2 separate regions of the Homo sapiens genome follow, and region 2 is linked to region 1. Evidence: fine-mapped expression QTL. A gene starts in region 1. The other region holds a variant in brackets. All regions are shown on one strand. Distances are between the middles of the regions. Region 1 holds the start of GNMT (glycine N-methyltransferase). Region 2 holds the start of LINC02976 (long intergenic non-protein coding RNA 2976).

What was found. PIP is the estimated chance that this variant, and not a neighbour inherited with it, causes the effect.
Region 2: its variant is fine-mapped to the expression of GNMT in pancreas (GTEx, PIP 0.95).

Annotation. Positions count from the first base shown.
Region 1 is chr6:42,956,557-42,964,876 of GRCh38, forward strand. It overlaps GNMT (glycine N-methyltransferase), which reads left to right and starts at 4,198. Exons shown (of 6, transcript NM_018960.6): 1 at 4,198-4,417; 2 at 5,656-5,783; 3 at 6,206-6,322; 4 at 6,516-6,658; 5 at 6,772-6,893; 6 at 6,979-7,324. The coding sequence starts at 4,212. The coding sequence ends at 7,150. CNPY3-GNMT (CNPY3-GNMT readthrough) reads left to right here. Exons shown (of 5, transcript NR_134892.2): 2 at 5,656-5,783; 3 at 6,206-6,322; 4 at 6,772-6,893; 5 at 6,979-7,324. It overlaps PEX6 (peroxisomal biogenesis factor 6), which reads right to left. Exons shown (of 17, transcript NM_000287.4): 16 at 8,234-8,320; 17 at 7,309-7,915. The coding sequence ends at 7,779. It also overlaps the pseudogene RPL24P4. RefSeq lists enhancers at 3,917-4,418, 4,597-4,646.
Region 2 is chr6:42,936,014-42,944,333 of GRCh38, forward strand. It overlaps CNPY3 (canopy FGF signaling regulator 3), which reads left to right. Exons shown (of 6, transcript NM_006586.5): 4 at 1,704-1,826; 5 at 2,077-2,194; 6 at 2,555-3,281. The coding sequence ends at 2,778. All of the region lies in intron 1 of CNPY3-GNMT (CNPY3-GNMT readthrough), which reads left to right. It overlaps LINC02976 (long intergenic non-protein coding RNA 2976), which reads left to right and starts at 4,480. Exons shown (of 5, transcript NR_186646.1): 1 at 4,480-4,593; 2 at 4,760-4,916; 3 at 5,497-5,602; 4 at 7,785-7,957. RefSeq lists an enhancer at 2,591-3,093. The variant C/T (reference allele first, on the strand shown) is at 3,576.

The sequences.
Region 1 (8,320 bases):
TCCTTCTGTAGAGGACAGTCCAGTTTATCTGCCGAGGATTCCTCTTGGAAAGGAACGCCAACTCGCATTTCGCATTAAGAAACTGGAAAACCTTCCCGTCGGTCCTGGCGTAGCGCCTCCCGTGTCCGGGGTAGATCTTGTACCCGCTAAAACTGCACAGCTCGACCTTCATGGCGACAGCTCCACAGAAAGACAAAAGATGGCGAAAAGTCTTTTTTAATTTTTTAAAAAATTTATTTATTTATTTTTTTGAGATGGAGTCTCGCTCTGTCACCCAGGCTGGAGTGCAGTGGCGCGATCTCGGCTCAGTGCAAGCTCTGCCTCCCGAGTTCACACCATTCTCCTGCCTCAGCCTCCTGAGTAGCTGGGATATCAGGCGCGTGCCACCACACCCAGATAAATTTTTTTTTTTGTATTCTTATTAGAGACGGGGTTTCACCGCGTTAGCCAGAATGGTCTCAATCTCCTGACCTCGTGATCTGCCCGCTTCGGCCTCCCAAAGTGTTGGGATTACAGGCGTGAGCCACTGTGCCCGGCCAATTTTTTTTTTGAAACGGAGTTTCATTCTTGTTGCCCAGGCTGGAGTGCAATGGTGTGATCTCGGTTCACCGCAACCTCCCCCTCGCAGGTTCAAGCGATTCTCCTGCCTCAGCCTCCTGATTTGCTAGGATTACAGGCAGGCGCCACCACGCCCAGCTAATTTTTTGCATTTTTAGTAGAGACGGGGTTTCTCCATGTTGGTCAGGCTGGTCTTGAACTCCCTACCTCAGGTGTTCTGCCTACCTCGACCTCCCAAAGTGCTGGGATTACAGGCATGAGCCACCGCACCCAGCCTCCAGGGAACAAGCATTTCTGGCAACTTGAACCCAGGAGGCGGAGGTTGCAGTGAGCCGAGATGGCACCACTCATTCCAGCCTGGGCGACAGAGGGAGACTCCATCTGAAAAAACAAAAACTAAACCATATGTAAAACAAACATTGTTTTGGTCCAGAAAGATGGGACAACTGGAGGTGAGGAGGCTTGGGGGCTTTCAGATCACAGGTGGGAGACAAAGGGTTGCGTTCTTTTGAGTTTCTGATTAGTCTCTCCAAAGGAAGCAATCAGATATGCATTTATCTCAATGGAGGCAGGCTCTCCCCAAGCTCTCAGCTTGAATTAACACTGACATTTTAAAATATCTAGCAAAGACAAACATAAAATTTAGACAAAACCTATGCTGACAAATCTGAAGGCCTTTTTATTTTTATTCCCCCAATAATTTTAAAGCTGGCTAGTTTAGTAAAGTTATACTTAAGTGGACTTGAAAATTGCTTAGACGTATTTACTTAATTACTTAAGCCCTCTTTTTTTTTTTTTTTTTTTTTTGAGACAGGAGTCTCGCTCTGTTGCCCAGGCTGGAGTGCAATGGCACGACCTCAGCTCACTGCAACCTCCACCTCCTGAGTTCAAGCAATTCTCCTGCCTCAGTCTCCCAAGTAGTTGGGATTACAGGTGCCCACCACCACGCCTGGCTAATTTTTGTATTTTTAGTAGAGACAGGGTTTCGCCATGTTGGTCAGGCTGGTCTCGAATTCCTGAGCTCATGATCCACCTCAGCCTCCCCAAGTATTGGGATTACAGGCGTGAGCCACTGCGCCTGGCGGAGCCCTCTTTTACTTATAAGTCAATTTGGTAGACACAACATATAGCAGTAAGTGTACATATAAGTAAATACATCTAGACATGTATATGCACACATAAACGATGACCTGGAACGTTAGCCATGAGATGGCAGTACAAGCTTGAAGGTTTTACTTTGCCCTAATGGATAATGCAGGGAAGGCTGTGAACCAAAATTTTGGGTAAAGCAGTCTCCATGGCAGTTTTATTTTTATTTATATTTATTTATTTTTTGAGACAGAGTTTCTCTCTTGTTGCCCAGGCTGGAGTGCAATAGCGCAATCTTGGCTCATCGCAACCTCCGCCTCCCAGATTCAAGCGATTCTCCTGCCTCAGCCTCCCAAGTAGCTGGGATTACAGGCATGCACCACCATGCCCGGCTAATTTTGTATTTTTAGTAGAGACGGGGCTTCTCCATGTTGGTCAGGCTAGTCTTGAACTCTCAACCTCAGTTGATCTGCCTGCCTCAGCCTCCCAAAGTGTTGGGATTATAGGTGTGAGCCACCGTGCCCGGCCAAAGTAGTTTGATTGATTGATTGATTTTTGTTTTGAGACGGAGTCTTGCTCTGTCGCCCAGGCTGGAGTGCAGTGGCGCAATCTTGGCTCACTGCAACCTCTGCCACCCGGGTTCAAGCGATTCTCCTGGCTTAGCCTCCCAAGTAGCTGGGATTACAGGCACGTGCCACCATGCCTGGCTAATTTTTGTATTTTTAGTAGAGACAGGGTTTTAGCATCTTGGCCAGGCTGATCTTGAACTCCTGACCACGTGATCCACCTGTCTTGGCTTCCTAAAGTGCTGGACAGTTTGATTTTTAAAGGCTAAACCTCCCCAGGCTCCAAGGAGCACTGGGGCCAAACAGTACCAAAGGAGAGCATCACCCGTTAACCAGGCCCCCTGCTTAGAAGAGTAGCACAGACCGGGCGCTGTGGCTCACACCTATAATCCCAGCACTTTGGGAGGCCGACGCCAGTGGATCACGAGGTCAGGAGTTTGAGACCAGCCTGACCAACATGGTGAAACCCTGCCTCTTCTAAAAATACAAAAATTAGCCGGGCGTGGTGGTGAGCGCCTGTAATACCAGCTACTCAGGAGGCTGAGGCAGGAGAATTGCTTGAATCTGGGAGGCGGAGATTGCAGTGAGCTGAGATTGCACCACGGCACTCCAGCCTGGCGACAGAGCGAGACTGTGTCTCAAAACAAAAACAAAAACAAAAAAAAACCCTGCAGTTGCTTCCATGTTTAGGCGCTGCCCACCAAGGGTCCCAAGTTGGAAAGGAAGGAGGAGAGAGGCAGAGAGAGAGAGAGAGAGAGAGAGAGAGAGAGAAGCGCGAGAGCGGCCCTGTAATTGAGCAGAAAGGAAAGGGAGAAAAATGAATCCCAAACTTTGGGCTTACCTCTTTCTGCTGGCTGGCTCGCCAAAATATGTTAACGGTAGAGGATGTCCAGGTTCTTGGCATCTTGAACAAACAATTGGACAAAATGCACAAACAAAGCAAGAAAGGAATGAAGGATTTTATTGAAAATGAAAGTACACTCCACAGTGTGGGAGCGAGCATGAGCATAGGGGCTCAAAGGCCCTGTTACATTTTGTGAGTTTAAATACCCTCTACTTGGGGTACACCCTATGTAAATGAAGAGGATGAAGTAAAGTTACAGTTACAAAGTTATTAATGGCGGGCATACGCCCTATGGAGAGGATATTTCCCGTTATAACTGAAGTGTGAATTGGCCTTATGTTCCCTGTCTCTAGACCCTATTCTCCTGCTTCCTGTGAAAGCAGAGGGTTTTGTTTGTTTTTTGCTTTTTGTTTTTTGAGACGGAGTCTTGCTCTGTTGCCCAGGCTGGAGTGCAGTGGTGCACTCGGCTCACTGCAACTTCCGCCTTCCCGGGTTCAAGCGATTCTCCTGGCTCAGCCTCCGGAGTAGCTAGGACTACAGGCGCGTGTCACCATGTCCCAGCTAATCTTTCTTTATTTTTAGTAGAGACGTGTTAGCCAGGTTTCACCGTGTTACCGTGTTACCGTATTCCAGCCGGGCTCCGCCCCTGGATTCGGTGGACAGACCAGCTTTACCTCCAGAGACTCCCCCTGTCTTCCCTGCACCGGCTGACTATACCTACACACTTCGGTGGCACAATCTTTGTTTAGATATGCTGATGCCTTCCTTCGCTGGGAACGGTCCAGTCCTGCCCGCCTGGCGCTCAGCTCTGCGGATCTCAGGGGATGGAGTGGCAATCTCATTGCTCCCGCCTCTCCTGACCCCTCTCGCCTTCTCCTCGAGACCCGGGTTAAGTGGGCAGAGGGCTCCGAGGGTCCTCTCCCGCCGTGGGATTGCACAGAGGGCTGGGTCCGCAGGCTGGCTAAAAGGACCTAGCCCAGGATTGCGAGGCAGCGCCCTCCCTGCAGCTGGACAGACTCGGGCGCCCGGCCCAAAGCCCGGCAGGGGCGTGTCCGCGCGCTCACCTGCTATTGGCCAGGTGGGGCTGTCGGCTGCCAGCAGTGCTTATGCTTTAAGTGCGGAGCGGGTGGCTGCGGAGCCAGGCGCGGCGCAGGATGGTGGACAGCGTGTACCGGACCCGCTCCCTGGGGGTGGCGGCCGAAGGGCTCCCGGACCAGTACGCGGACGGGGAGGCGGCGCGCGTGTGGCAGCTGTATATCGGAGACACCCGCAGCCGCACCGCCGAGTACAAGGCATGGCTGCTTGGGCTGCTGCGCCAGCACGGCTGCCAGCGGGTGCTCGACGTAGCCTGTGGCACTGGGTGAGCCCAGGCCGGGGCCGGGGGCGTTGCATGAGATCGGGGTCTGTCTCAGCCTGTACTGCGCGGCCGCAGAACCACAGGGCCGGGCACGTCAGGGCGGCCTTTGCCAATCCTGGAACGGGTGGGACACCAGGGCCAGGAGCAGGTACCTGCCCGGCAGAACAGGCACTGCGAGTGCCCCGTGAGGCTAGGGGTCCAGGTAGCGGTTCGCAGGGAGAGGCCCCGGAGAAGGGAGACTGAGTGTGAGTGAGGGTGTGGGCAGAAAAAGTGAGCGTCCCTGAGGCTTTGGAGCCAGAGCCACGGACAGATTGCAAATATTCCTCCTGTGATGGCCTTGGGCAGTGTTAACAGTTAACATTGCTCAACATTTGCACCTGCCAAGCCCAGTGCCAGGAGCTTTTGATACATCACTTTTTCAAACCCTCACAAAGCCCCATGAAGTTAAGCAGTGATATTCTCTCATTTACTACTGGGGAAGTAAGGCCTCAGCAAAGTAAAATTCCCTCATACATCATCCAGTGAAAAGGAGCTAACAGGCCCGGGTTGGTTAAGATCTGTCCTGTGCTCTATTTTTCTCTTTTTTTTTTTTTTTTTTTTTGAGATGAAGTCGTGCTCTGTCGCCCAGGCTGGAGTGCAGTGGCTCCATCTCGGCTCACTGCAAGCTCCGCCTCCTGAGTTCATGCCATTCTCCTGCCTCAGCCTCCCGAGTAGCTGGGACTACAGGCGCCTGCCACCACGCCCAGCTAATATTTTGTATTTTTAGTAGAGACGGGGTTTCGCCGTGTTAGCCAGGATGGTCTCGATCTCCTGACCTTGTGATCTGCCCACCTCGGCCTCCCAAAGTGCTGGGATTACAGGCATGAGCCACCGCGCCCGGCTTTGTCCTGTGCTCTAAACCACCATGTTCTACTGCCTTTTGTGCACACGTATTTTAACTTCAAGGAGCCTCAGCTTGTCTGTCTCTCAAATGGGAATGACACTATTTACCTCTCAGGATTGCCATGAGAATTAATGCATATTTGTAGAGTGCCTGGCTCTGAAGAGGTGCTTTTAAAAAAAAGTTGCCTTGTGGTGACAGGAAACAGATTTGTGAGGTCAGTGGAGAGGGCCTGGGGAGAGGAGGCAGAGGAACGGACTCTGAGAAGTAGAGACAAAAGTGTCCAGTGCAGGGTCTCCTCCTGGCCCTCCCAGGCTCCCCTAACTGCCTCTCTCTGCCTCTCCTCGCTGGCCGTACTCAGGGTGGACTCCATTATGCTGGTGGAAGAGGGCTTCAGTGTGACGAGTGTGGATGCCAGTGACAAGATGCTGAAGTATGCACTTAAGGAGCGCTGGAACCGGCGGCACGAGCCCGCCTTCGACAAGTGGGGTATGCAGGTCTAGCCAGGCTCCCCCAGCCCAGTCACCAGGAACACTGTTCATTCTGCCTGGGGCTCCTTTAAGTGGGGGCGGGGGTGGAGTGTTGTGTTTTCCTCGGGGAGACAGAAAAATTACTGTCATTTCTCTGAAAAGCAAGTCTTAAGCTCCAGAATGAGACACCGGGTGTGAAGAGCTGGTTTTAACTGTGTTTGTGGCATCTTGTCCCTCCCCTCAAAGAAAAACCCATAAGCACAGAGCCCTCCTTCCCAACCAGGGTTCCTTCTCCCTTGATCCCTCTTTTCTCCTCCCCCTAACTGAACGGGGAGCTTGTGTGTCTTAAGAAGAAACCCAGGCAGGACTGCACTTGGTGGAGGTGGCTGCTACTGGTACCATCGTGCCTCCCTGATTCCTCTTTCTCTTCCTGACCCCTAGTCATCGAAGAAGCCAACTGGATGACTCTGGACAAAGATGTGCCCCAGTCAGCAGAGGGTGGCTTTGATGCTGTCATCTGCCTTGGAAACAGTTTCGCTCACTTGCCAGACTGCAAAGGTAAGAGAGGGTGTGGCCTTGGGCATGGCCCCCGCCTTGAGGCCCCCTTCCACAGACATCTGGCACCTGCTCTCCTGCCAAAGCAGACTCTCTGCCTTGGCTCTGGCACCCCTGGGGAGGGGAGAGATGGGAGGGAGACTGGTGCTGGGGGCCCTGAGCAGATGGAGTCTTTCTGCCCGTGCCTGGAGCTCAGGGGACCAGAGTGAGCACCGGCTGGCGCTGAAAAACATTGCGAGCATGGTGCGGGCAGGGGGCCTACTGGTCATTGATCATCGCAACTACGACCACATCCTCAGTACAGGCTGTGCACCCCCAGGGAAGAACATCTACTATAAGGTGGGGCCCTCTGGGGTGGGGGTGGGGGTGGGGGTGGGGGTGGGGTGGAGGGAGGGTCCAGTGGCCCCAAGGTGGGTTACAGAGGCTAATGCCGGCTGCCCCACCACCTACAGAGTGACTTGACCAAGGACGTCACAACATCAGTGCTGATAGTGAACAACAAGGCCCACATGGTGACCCTGGACTATACGGTGCAGGTGCCGGGGGCTGGCCAGGATGGCTCTCCTGGCTTGAGGTACCACTTGGCTTAGTGGGGGTGAGGCGGTAGTTGGGGGAGCTGAGGTCACCAGTCCTCATGGTTGCTGGGGCCTCTGTTACAGTAAGTTCCGGCTCTCCTACTACCCACACTGTCTGGCATCCTTCACGGAGCTGCTCCAAGCAGCCTTCGGAGGTAAGTGCCAGCACAGCGTCCTGGGCGACTTCAAGCCTTACAAGCCAGGCCAAACCTACATTCCCTGCTACTTCATCCACGTGCTCAAGAGGACAGACTGAGTGTGGCCTCAGCTCCCACAAGCCTCTGCCCAGGCACTGCTAGGCTCTGTCTGGAAGATGGGGACCAGCAGCCCCACACCAGGGCCAGCCTCTAGAGCAGACTACAGCTGGGGTGCAGGGATGTGGGTTCCACAGACGGAAGGGTAAACAATATAGTCTTTTTCAGTTCCTGCATGCATTGTGTTTATTTATGTCAGAAGGATCAGGCTCCCATGCTGCCCACCCCCCCACCCTCTCCCAGGGCTTACTCCTCCCACAACCCTGCTCTTTCTCACTCCAACCTTTCATGCCACAACACCAGTAGGGGGCGGGACATGCTTTATTTTCAGCCACAGAACTAGCCCTCTCAGGGCCCAATCCCCAGAACCCAAGGCCCTGGCCCTCTTCCTGAGTAGATGGGCCTTTCTCTTAGAGCCGGCCTGGAAGGAGGGGCAAGTAGGCAGGAGATATCTCTTGAGCTGTTGCTGCTGTCTCAATGCCACTTTGCACCCTGGGATCTCCTGGAGGGAGGTGGCCTCCAGGTGGGTTGGCAGCAGCCTGAGGAGGAGCCCTTCCTTCCCAGATCTCTCTGTGGGCTATCAAGGTACCTGCAGCCATGCTGAGCGGGGTCCCAGACCCTGGGGGGCTCCTAGCAGGCAGCAAACTTGCGCTGGATGCGCTTGTACCGGAGCAGCTCCTGCTCACTGACTGAGGGTTGCAGCCGGGCGGCAGCCTGCAGCAAGTCCTCCATGGTGAGCATCAGTGCTGAGCTACCTGGCTCCAGCCCTGGAGATGACAAGGTGGGGAGGCTGTGGTCTATGCCCAGGCAGGGGAGAGCCCTGCGAAGGTGGCTTCCTGCTCAGGGTCTCCTAGATGTCAATGATCTTCCCTCTGGAATCCAGGACTAGGTTTGTCTCCCACTAGTTTTTTTTTTCCCTTAAACATTTTTTTTAGAGTTGGGGTCTCTCTGTGTTGCCCAGGCTGGCCTCAAACTCCTGGGCTCAAGCGATCCTCCCACCTCAGCCTCTCAAGTAGCTGGGACTCAGGTGCACCCAGCTCCCCACTAGCTTTTTGGTTGACCTCTCAGACCGGCAAGTGGCTCACCTTCCTCCAGGTCATGAACCCTGCGTTTGAGGGCAGCTGTCATAGCATCAGAGCAGAGAGAGTAGAGGTCCGCGCCCGTCAGCTGGG
Region 2 (8,320 bases), 21 kb before region 1:
AGAGGACACCTCGGTGGGAGTGACTGCCCAGTCCCATCTCTGGGTCCACACAGCACCTCCCACAACCCCGCTGGGATGCCCTTGTGATGGCCCATGTACTCAGTATGTGTACGAGTGCTTTTCTCTCTGGAGAATGAGCTGCTTACAACAAGGCCCATAGTTCTTACTCTCTACATCTTCAGTGCCTGGCACAGGGTAAGATAGTTGCCACCCACATTTTTCTACCTAAGTTTCCTTCTAGCAAAGGATACCATTCATAAACTCCTGGGATACCTAAGGGAATAGTCTCAAGCAGCAGAAATTTGTATGAATTTTGCACTCAGTAATAAATCTGTGTTTGCTTTAATAAAAAGTGTTTAAGAATTATTTTTCATAGCAGGAAAAAAATGAGAAACAATCTAACTCTACCAATAGGGGATTAAATACGTTGATCCAGCCGTTTGGTGGACTAGTATGCGGCTGGAAACGAAGCATGGGGAGGCTCTTTAGGAACTGAATTCAATTGATTTTCAAGGTTTTTGTGTGTTTGTTTGTTTTGGAGACAGAGTCTCACACTCTGTTGCCCAAGCTGGAGCGCAGTGGTGCGATCTCAGTTCATTGCAACCTCCACCTTCCAGATTGAAGCTATTCTCCCACCTCAGCCTCCTGAGTAGCTGGGATTACAGGCACCGACCACCACGCCCGACTAATTTTTGTGTTTTTTAGTAGAAACGGGGTTTCACCATGCTGGCCAGGGGGTCTCGAACTCCTGACCTCAGGTGATCAGCCCACCTTGGCCTCTCAAAGTGCTGGGATTACAGGCATGAGCCACTGCACCCAGCCCTTCAAGGTATAAGTAAAAAGGGCAAGTGCAAAATAGTGTGTATGCTATACCACTGCTTGTGTAAAAAGGCGGGGGGAGGATATATTTAGATATTGGTATTTGTATGAGTTATCTCTGGGAAAATAGAGGAAATGGATAGTATGTTTTCTCTGGGGATAAGACCTAGGCAGCTAGCAGAGATAGTTTTTACAGAATAAAGGGTCTACCTGCCTCAGCTATGCCTTTTTCCCACTGAGGAAAGACACAACCCAGGAAGAACGGAACAGCAGGTCTGGATGATATGGGAGTGTTTCCAGCCATAGTGAGGGGAAAGAGCTAAGACAAACCTATTTCCTGGAAAAGAAGCATAAAGCCAAAGGGCCTGAGGGCAGCCGCAGGTCTTTTTGAAGCGATGAGGTGTGCAGAGGCAGATCAGGGGGTATATGTGCAGGGGTTGTGGGAAGCAGGCCTAAAAGAGGGAAGAGGAAGGTCAGGTCAAGGATGAGGCCAGGTGCGGTGGCTCACGCCTGTAATCTCAGCACTTTGGGAGGCTGAGGTGAGTGGAAAACTTGATGCTAGGAGTTCGAGACCAGCCTGACCAACATGACAAAACCCCAACTCTACAAAAATTAGCCGGGTATGGTGGCACGCCTTTGTAGTCCCAGCTGCTTGGGAGGCTGAAGCAGGAAAATCGCTTGAACCTGGGAGGCAGAGGTTGCAGTGAGCTGAGACGCTCCAACCTGGGCGACAGAGTGAGACTCCTTCTCAAAAAAAAAAGGATGAGGATCCTTAGAGGGCGTTGAGCATTGGTCTTATAGCTGGGTTCTTAGCCACCACTGGGAGACGAGGGTGGGAGGGAGAGAAGGGAGCTCCGCCTGCCATATCTGGTCGCTTCTTCCAGGGCATGTCAGAGACCTTTGAGACATTACACAACCTGGTACACAAAGGGGTCAAGGTGGTGATGGACATCCCCTATGAGCTGTGGAACGAGACTTCTGCAGAGGTGGCTGACCTCAAGAAGCAGGTACAGGCCCTTCAGCCCTTGGAAGGGTTGCTGTGCCCAGTGAGGGGCTGGTGGGGATTGGGTCTGCTCTGAGGAAGTCCACCCAGGCCGGGGTGGCTTTGGTCAGGTCATTTCACCTCTCTGGCCTCAGTTTCCTTAGGTGAACCGCTGCCACTGCCTACCTTGCAGTGGGTTGCGAGGCTTAGCTGAGCTCCTCTAGGAGCGAGTCAGGTGCTGGGGCTTTGCCAATATGAGGTATTATGATTAACAGTGTGATGTGCTGGTGGAAGAGTTTGAGGAGGTGATCGAGGACTGGTACAGGAACCACCAGGAGGAAGACCTGACTGAATTCCTCTGCGCCAACCACGTGCTGAAGGGAAAAGACACCAGTGAGTTTGGGGAAGCAAGGGCAGGCTGGCTCTGGATGATTTGTTTGCTCTCCCTTGGGGGAGGTGGGTAGGAGGAGAAACAGAGGGCACCAGAGGGCATTGTAGGATCTCTGCCCTTGAAAGGCTTGATTGGCAAGACATGGTGAAGTAAGAGTCACTGAAACCAGGTGCAGAATGATGGGCAGACAAGTCAGATGCCCCCAGAGGGGCCTGGTGGCCACAGCGAGAGGCAGGAGGCAGGGAGGCTGATGTCAAGCACAGTCCCAGTTGCTACTCCCACGGCTCCCTGCTCAGTGCTCCTTGCCCAGCACCCCAGCCCTGAGGCACTTCTGTTGAGGGTCTCTCTCCTCCACACCCTAGGTTGCCTGGCAGAGCAGTGGTCCGGCAAGAAGGGAGACACAGCTGCCCTGGGAGGGAAGAAGTCCAAGAAGAAGAGCAGCAGGGCCAAGGCAGCAGGCGGCAGGAGTAGCAGCAGCAAACAAAGGAAGGAGCTGGGTGGCCTTGAGGGAGACCCCAGCCCCGAGGAGGATGAGGGCATCCAGAAGGCATCCCCTCTCACACACAGCCCCCCTGATGAGCTCTGAGCCCACCCAGCATCCTCTGTCCTGAGACCCCTGATTTTGAAGCTGAGGAGTCAGGGGCATGGCTCTGGCAGGCCGGGATGGCCCCGCAGCCTTCAGCCCCTCCTTGCCTTGGCTGTGCCCTCTTCTGCCAAGGAAAGACACAAGCCCCAGGAAGAACTCAGAGCCGTCATGGGTAGCCCACGCCGTCCTTTCCCCTCCCCAAGTGTTTCTCTCCTGACCCAGGGTTCAGGCAGGCCTTGTGGTTTCAGGACTGCAAGGACTCCAGTGTGAACTCAGGAGGGGCAGGTGTCAGAACTGGGCACCAGGACTGGAGCCCCCTCCGGAGACCAAACTCACCATCCCTCAGTCCTCCCCAACAGGGTACTAGGACTGCAGCCCCCTGTAGCTCCTCTCTGCTTACCCCTCCTGTGGACACCTTGCACTCTGCCTGGCCCTTCCCAGAGCCCAAAGAGTAAAAATGTTCTGGTTCTGATTTCTGAGTCCTCTGCAGCCCTCAGAGGTGCCCTGGAGCCTCTTGTTCTTTCCTGCCCCTCGCCTTCCAGCCCGTGGGGCTGAGGAGGGGAAGGCTAAAACCCACCCACTCTCGGGAGCAGCAAGTGCTGGGAAGGCCCAGGGTTGTCTTGGGGTGAGGGGAGGCATGGGCATAGGATGAGGCCCAGGGCAGTGCACTGACCTTACGCTGCTCCCTCGTGTCCTGGACACCTGGCTGCCGTTCCCTCCCTCCCTCTCTCCTGCTGCTCCTCTTCCCAAGGCCTCCCATTTGTTGTGTAAAATGCAGTGTTTACCTGGCCAGCTCC[C/T]GCCCCTGTTCCTACTTCCACCTGGCCTTGACTGTTGGTCCTGAACCTTGTTTTCTGATGACCACACTTGATCACTCTGAGGTTCCTAGCTGTTGTACCTGGAGTGCAGTTGGGAGGACACCCGGTTCCCAACACCATCTGGTCACACCATGTTCCTCAGGGCCAAGGGAGGAGCAGAGAGGCTGGCCTCTAGGGAGAAGGGGTGGGGAAGCTCAGGCACCTCCCAGTTTGTCCTGAAGGCAGGGATCGGGGCAATTGGTACAGTAGTGATGACAATTGTATGTATTCAAATTGTATGCTTTAACTTTTACTATTACCACACTCTTGTGAGGTGTGCTGTTAACCTCATTGTGTAGAGGAGAAAACAGGCTAGAGTCAAGTGATATGCTTGGAGTCAGGTGACCTTGGAGTCAAGGTCCTGCTGTTAAGGAGTGGTATAGCTGGGACGCAGACACTGGCGTTCAGATTACAAATCCATGGTACTTCCACTCTCCACAGCTGCCAGGGCCTCTTCCCCCAACCCCTGGCACTGACAGTGTGAGTTGTATCGAACTGGTTTAGTTTCTTGGCCTTAACCTGTCACCACCACCAAGATTCTTTTTGTTTTGTTTTGTTTTGTTTTGTTTTTTTGAGGCGGAATCTCACTCTGTTGCCCAGGCTGGAGTGCAGTGGTGTGATCTTGGCTCACTGCATCGTCTGCCTCCCGGGTTCAAGCAATTCTCTGCCTTAGCCTCCCGAGTAGCTGGGATTACAGGCACCTGCCACCACGCCCAGCTAATTTTTTTGTATTTGTAGTAGAGACGGGGTTTCACCATCTTGGCCAGGATAGTTTTGAACTCCTGACCTCATGATCCATCTGCCTCGGCTTCCCAAAGTGTTGGGATTACAGGTGGGAGCCACTGCGCCTGGCCTAACCACCACCAAGATTCCTAAAAGGCGAATAGGAAGCAGCTGTGGCTTATTGGAAGGAAAGAATGGCAGCAAGTCCTGGGGGAGCTGTGCCCGCACCAGATCTCCCGTGAGCACCCACACTGCAACTCTACCTCACACTTCCAGGCTAGGCCCAGTGGGTAGGAGGGATACACTGCTGAAGCCTCCCTGCGTCCATTGCAGCGGCTCTGGGGGCTGAACTGGGAGTGAGGGGCCCCCTCATAGCCTGGTCCCAGCCTCTCCCCCTCTACCAGGTTAGGGCAGCCAAGGCCATAGAGAGTGGAACAGAATGGAATCTGTCTCTCCTTAAGCTGTTGAGGATGACGCCAGGTCCTGGGAAAATGATACTGTCTTGGTCCAGCCTCCACCTCTGCATCTCCAGGACTGATGTTCCCCCTGTTAAAGGAGCTGGTGAGCAGTGAGATTACAGTCTAGATGCAGGTCTTGTCCTGGACTTTGTTCTGAGCATAGAAAATGGCTGGGGGTGAGGTGGAGGGGCTGGTACCCAGGGCAGGGATGTGTTTCCTGCCCCCTGAACTGTCTAGGATTTGGTGGCCACCCTCTGATTCCCCCATTCTATCACTAACAGCACTTCAAGGCCTGGCTTACTTCTGTCCCCACAGCTTCATTGATTTTTTTTTTGTTTTTTGTTTTGTTTTGAGTCTTTTTTTTTTTTTTTTTGAGACAGAGTCTCACTCTGTTGCCCAGGCTGGAGTGCAGTGTCACAATCTCAGCTCACTGCAACCTCCGCCTCCTGGGTTCAAGTGATTCTCTGCTTCAGCCTCCCAAGTAGCTGGGATTACAGGCAACCGCCACCACACCCAGCTAATTTTTGTATTTTCAGTAGAGACGGGGTTTCCCCATGTTGGCCAGGCTGTTCTCGAACTCCTGACCTCAAGTGATCCACCTGCCTTGGCCTCCCAAAGTGCTGGGATTACAGGCAGGAACTACCATGCCTAACCCTTTCCCCTACCTTTCTTTTTTGGAACAGGATCTCCCTTTGTCACCCAGGCTGGAGTGCAGTGGCGTGATCATGACTCACTGCAGGCCTCAACCTCTCAGGCTCAAGTGATCCTCCTGAATAGTTGGGACCATAGGTATGCACCACTGTACCTGGCTAATTTAAACATCTTATTTTTTGTATACCAGGTGTGGAGGCTCACACCTGTAATCCTAGCACTTTGGGAGACCAAGGCTGGAGGATCGCTTGAACCCAGGAGTTCGAGACTAGCCTAGGCAACATAGTGAGACCATGTGTCTAAAAAAAGAAAAAATTATTTAAATACTTTTTTATTTGTTTGCAAGAGTCTCACTCTGTCACCCAGGCTGGAGTGCACTGGCACAATCTTGTCTCACTGCAACCTCTTCCTCCTGGGTTCAAGTGATTATCCTGCTTCAGCCTCCCGAGTAGCTGGGATTACAGCCACACACAACCACGTCTGGCTAATTTTTGTATTTTTAATAGAGACGGGGTTTCACCATGATGGCCAGGCTGGTCTCGAACTCCTCACCTCAGATGATTCACCCACCTCGGCCTCTCAGAGTGCTAGGATTATAGGTATGAGCCACTGTACCCGGCCAATAATTTTTTTAATTTTTAATTTATTTTTTGGGCCTGGGGTGGTTTCAGCCTCTTATTTGGGAGGCTGAGGCAGGACAATTGCTTGAAACCAAGAGGCGGAGGTTGCAGTGAGCCGAGATTGCACCACTGCACTCCAGCCTGGGTGACAGAGTGAGACTCCATCCCCCGCAACCAAAAAAAAAAAAAAATTTGTAGCAACAGGGTCTCCACATGTTGGCCAGGCTGGTCTCAAACTCCTGGACTCAAGCAATCCTCCCATCTCGGCCTCCCAAAGTGCTGGGATTACACGTGTGAGCCACCATGCCTGGCCTCATTGATTTTTAAAGTAGGACAAGGTAAAGATCTAACCCCCAAGCCAGGTGTGGTGGCTCACGGCTGTAATCCCGGCACTTTGGGAGGCTGAGATGGGCGGTTCACCTGAGGTCAGCCTGGGCGACAGAGGGAGACTCCATCTCAAAAAAAAATAAAAAAAACTCCTTACTGAGGTGTTGGCCCAGTGGCCCAATCCCAGGCCCTGGCCCAGTCTTGAGGGCAGGCAGTGTTGTCACTGCTTTGCTCTTTGACCTGTGGTTACTGCTTCCCAAGGGCCAGGCTTGTTGCATACTCACTAGCTTTCACGCAGCCCACCCAGCAGCAGCTTACTCTGGCCCTGCCTAGAAAGGCAGAATGCAGGAAACCTGGCTTTCCGGGTTTTTTTCTTTCCCTTTTTTTTTTTTTTTGGTAGAGACGGGGTTTTGCTGTGTTGCCCAGGCTGGTCTCACACTTCTGGGCTCCAGCAATCCCCCCACCTCGGCCTCCCAAAGTTTTGGAATTACAGGTGTGTGGCTTAGCGCCCAGCCCAGGTTTTTCTTTTCTTCTCCCCACCACACAAGCCTTTCCGAACTTGGGCGTTGCCTCCCACTTTCCTATACCCCTTCCCATCCATGGCTTGTTTTTGTTTTGATTCAGAACAGGCAGAAATTAATCTACCTGATATACAGAAATTCATATAGATGAATTTCTACCTGTTCTGAATCAAAACACAAGCCATGTGCAGTGCATGCCTGTAGTCCCAGCTACTTGGGAGGTGGCTTGAGAGGATCACTTGAGCCCAGGAGTTCCAGTCCAGCCTGAGCAACACAGTGAGACCCTCATCTCTAAAAAGCGAATAAAAACAAAAAAAACACCAAAACAACCAGGATGTCTCCCATTTGCACTCCACTTAAGTGTGGAGACTTAGGCTGATCACATCACTGCACTCCAGCCTGAGTAACAGACTGAGACCCTGTCTCAAAAAACAAAATGAGACAAAAAACCTGCTCGTAATAAAGTGTGAAATTATAAAAAGAACCTCTGTTTTTAAAAGTTTTCTATTTATATAAATTTATAGGGCACAAGTATAATCAGGTAAGGGTACTGCCTGCACTCAAGTTAACCTGATTTCCGTCTTCCTGTCAGAAGCCTCATTAGAACAAGATTCTAAACTTAACTCACCTGGACATGAGAGTCACCTAGAATACTTGTTAAACATACAGATGTCTGGGTTTGCCTCAGACTTGCTGGGTTGAGACCTGGGAGTCTGCATGCTTAGCAAACATCTCTCACGGTCCTTAAGAGGAGGCAGCTAGAACTCACTTCACCAAGATAAACCCAGGGTGTTGTCCTAAGATGGGGCAGGACTTCAGTGAATTTACAGTGGGTCAATGTCTTGTCCTCAGAAACACAAACAGCAGAATGGCTCCATCTCTGTTGAAGACTTCCATCAACTAGAACCACGAGGGCTGATGGACAGACCACAAGGCCAGTTTGTTCCAGTTCAATGATTAAAAGAACCACAGATGACCAGGCACGGTGGCTCACGCCTGTAATCCCAGCACTTTGGGAGCCCGAGGTGGGTGGATCACGAGATCAGGAGTTTGAGACCAGCCTGGCCAATATGGTGAAACCCCGTCTCTACTAAAGATACAAAAAATTAGCCAGGCGTGGTGGCTCACGCCTGTAATCCCAGCTATTCAGGAGGCTGAGGCAGAAGAATGACTCGAACCCAGGAGGCAGAGGTTGCAGTGAGCCGAGATCATGCCATTGCACTCCAGCCTGGGCAACAGGCAAGACTCTGTCTGAAACCAAACAACAACAAAACATGCTCAGACAGTAAAATCTCACGAGTGCTACATCAGGGCTTCCATATTCATTTGAAAGGGCAGGTCCTAGGAGGCAGGCTCCTCTCCTTACTTTGAGACTGCTGGGTGGCATT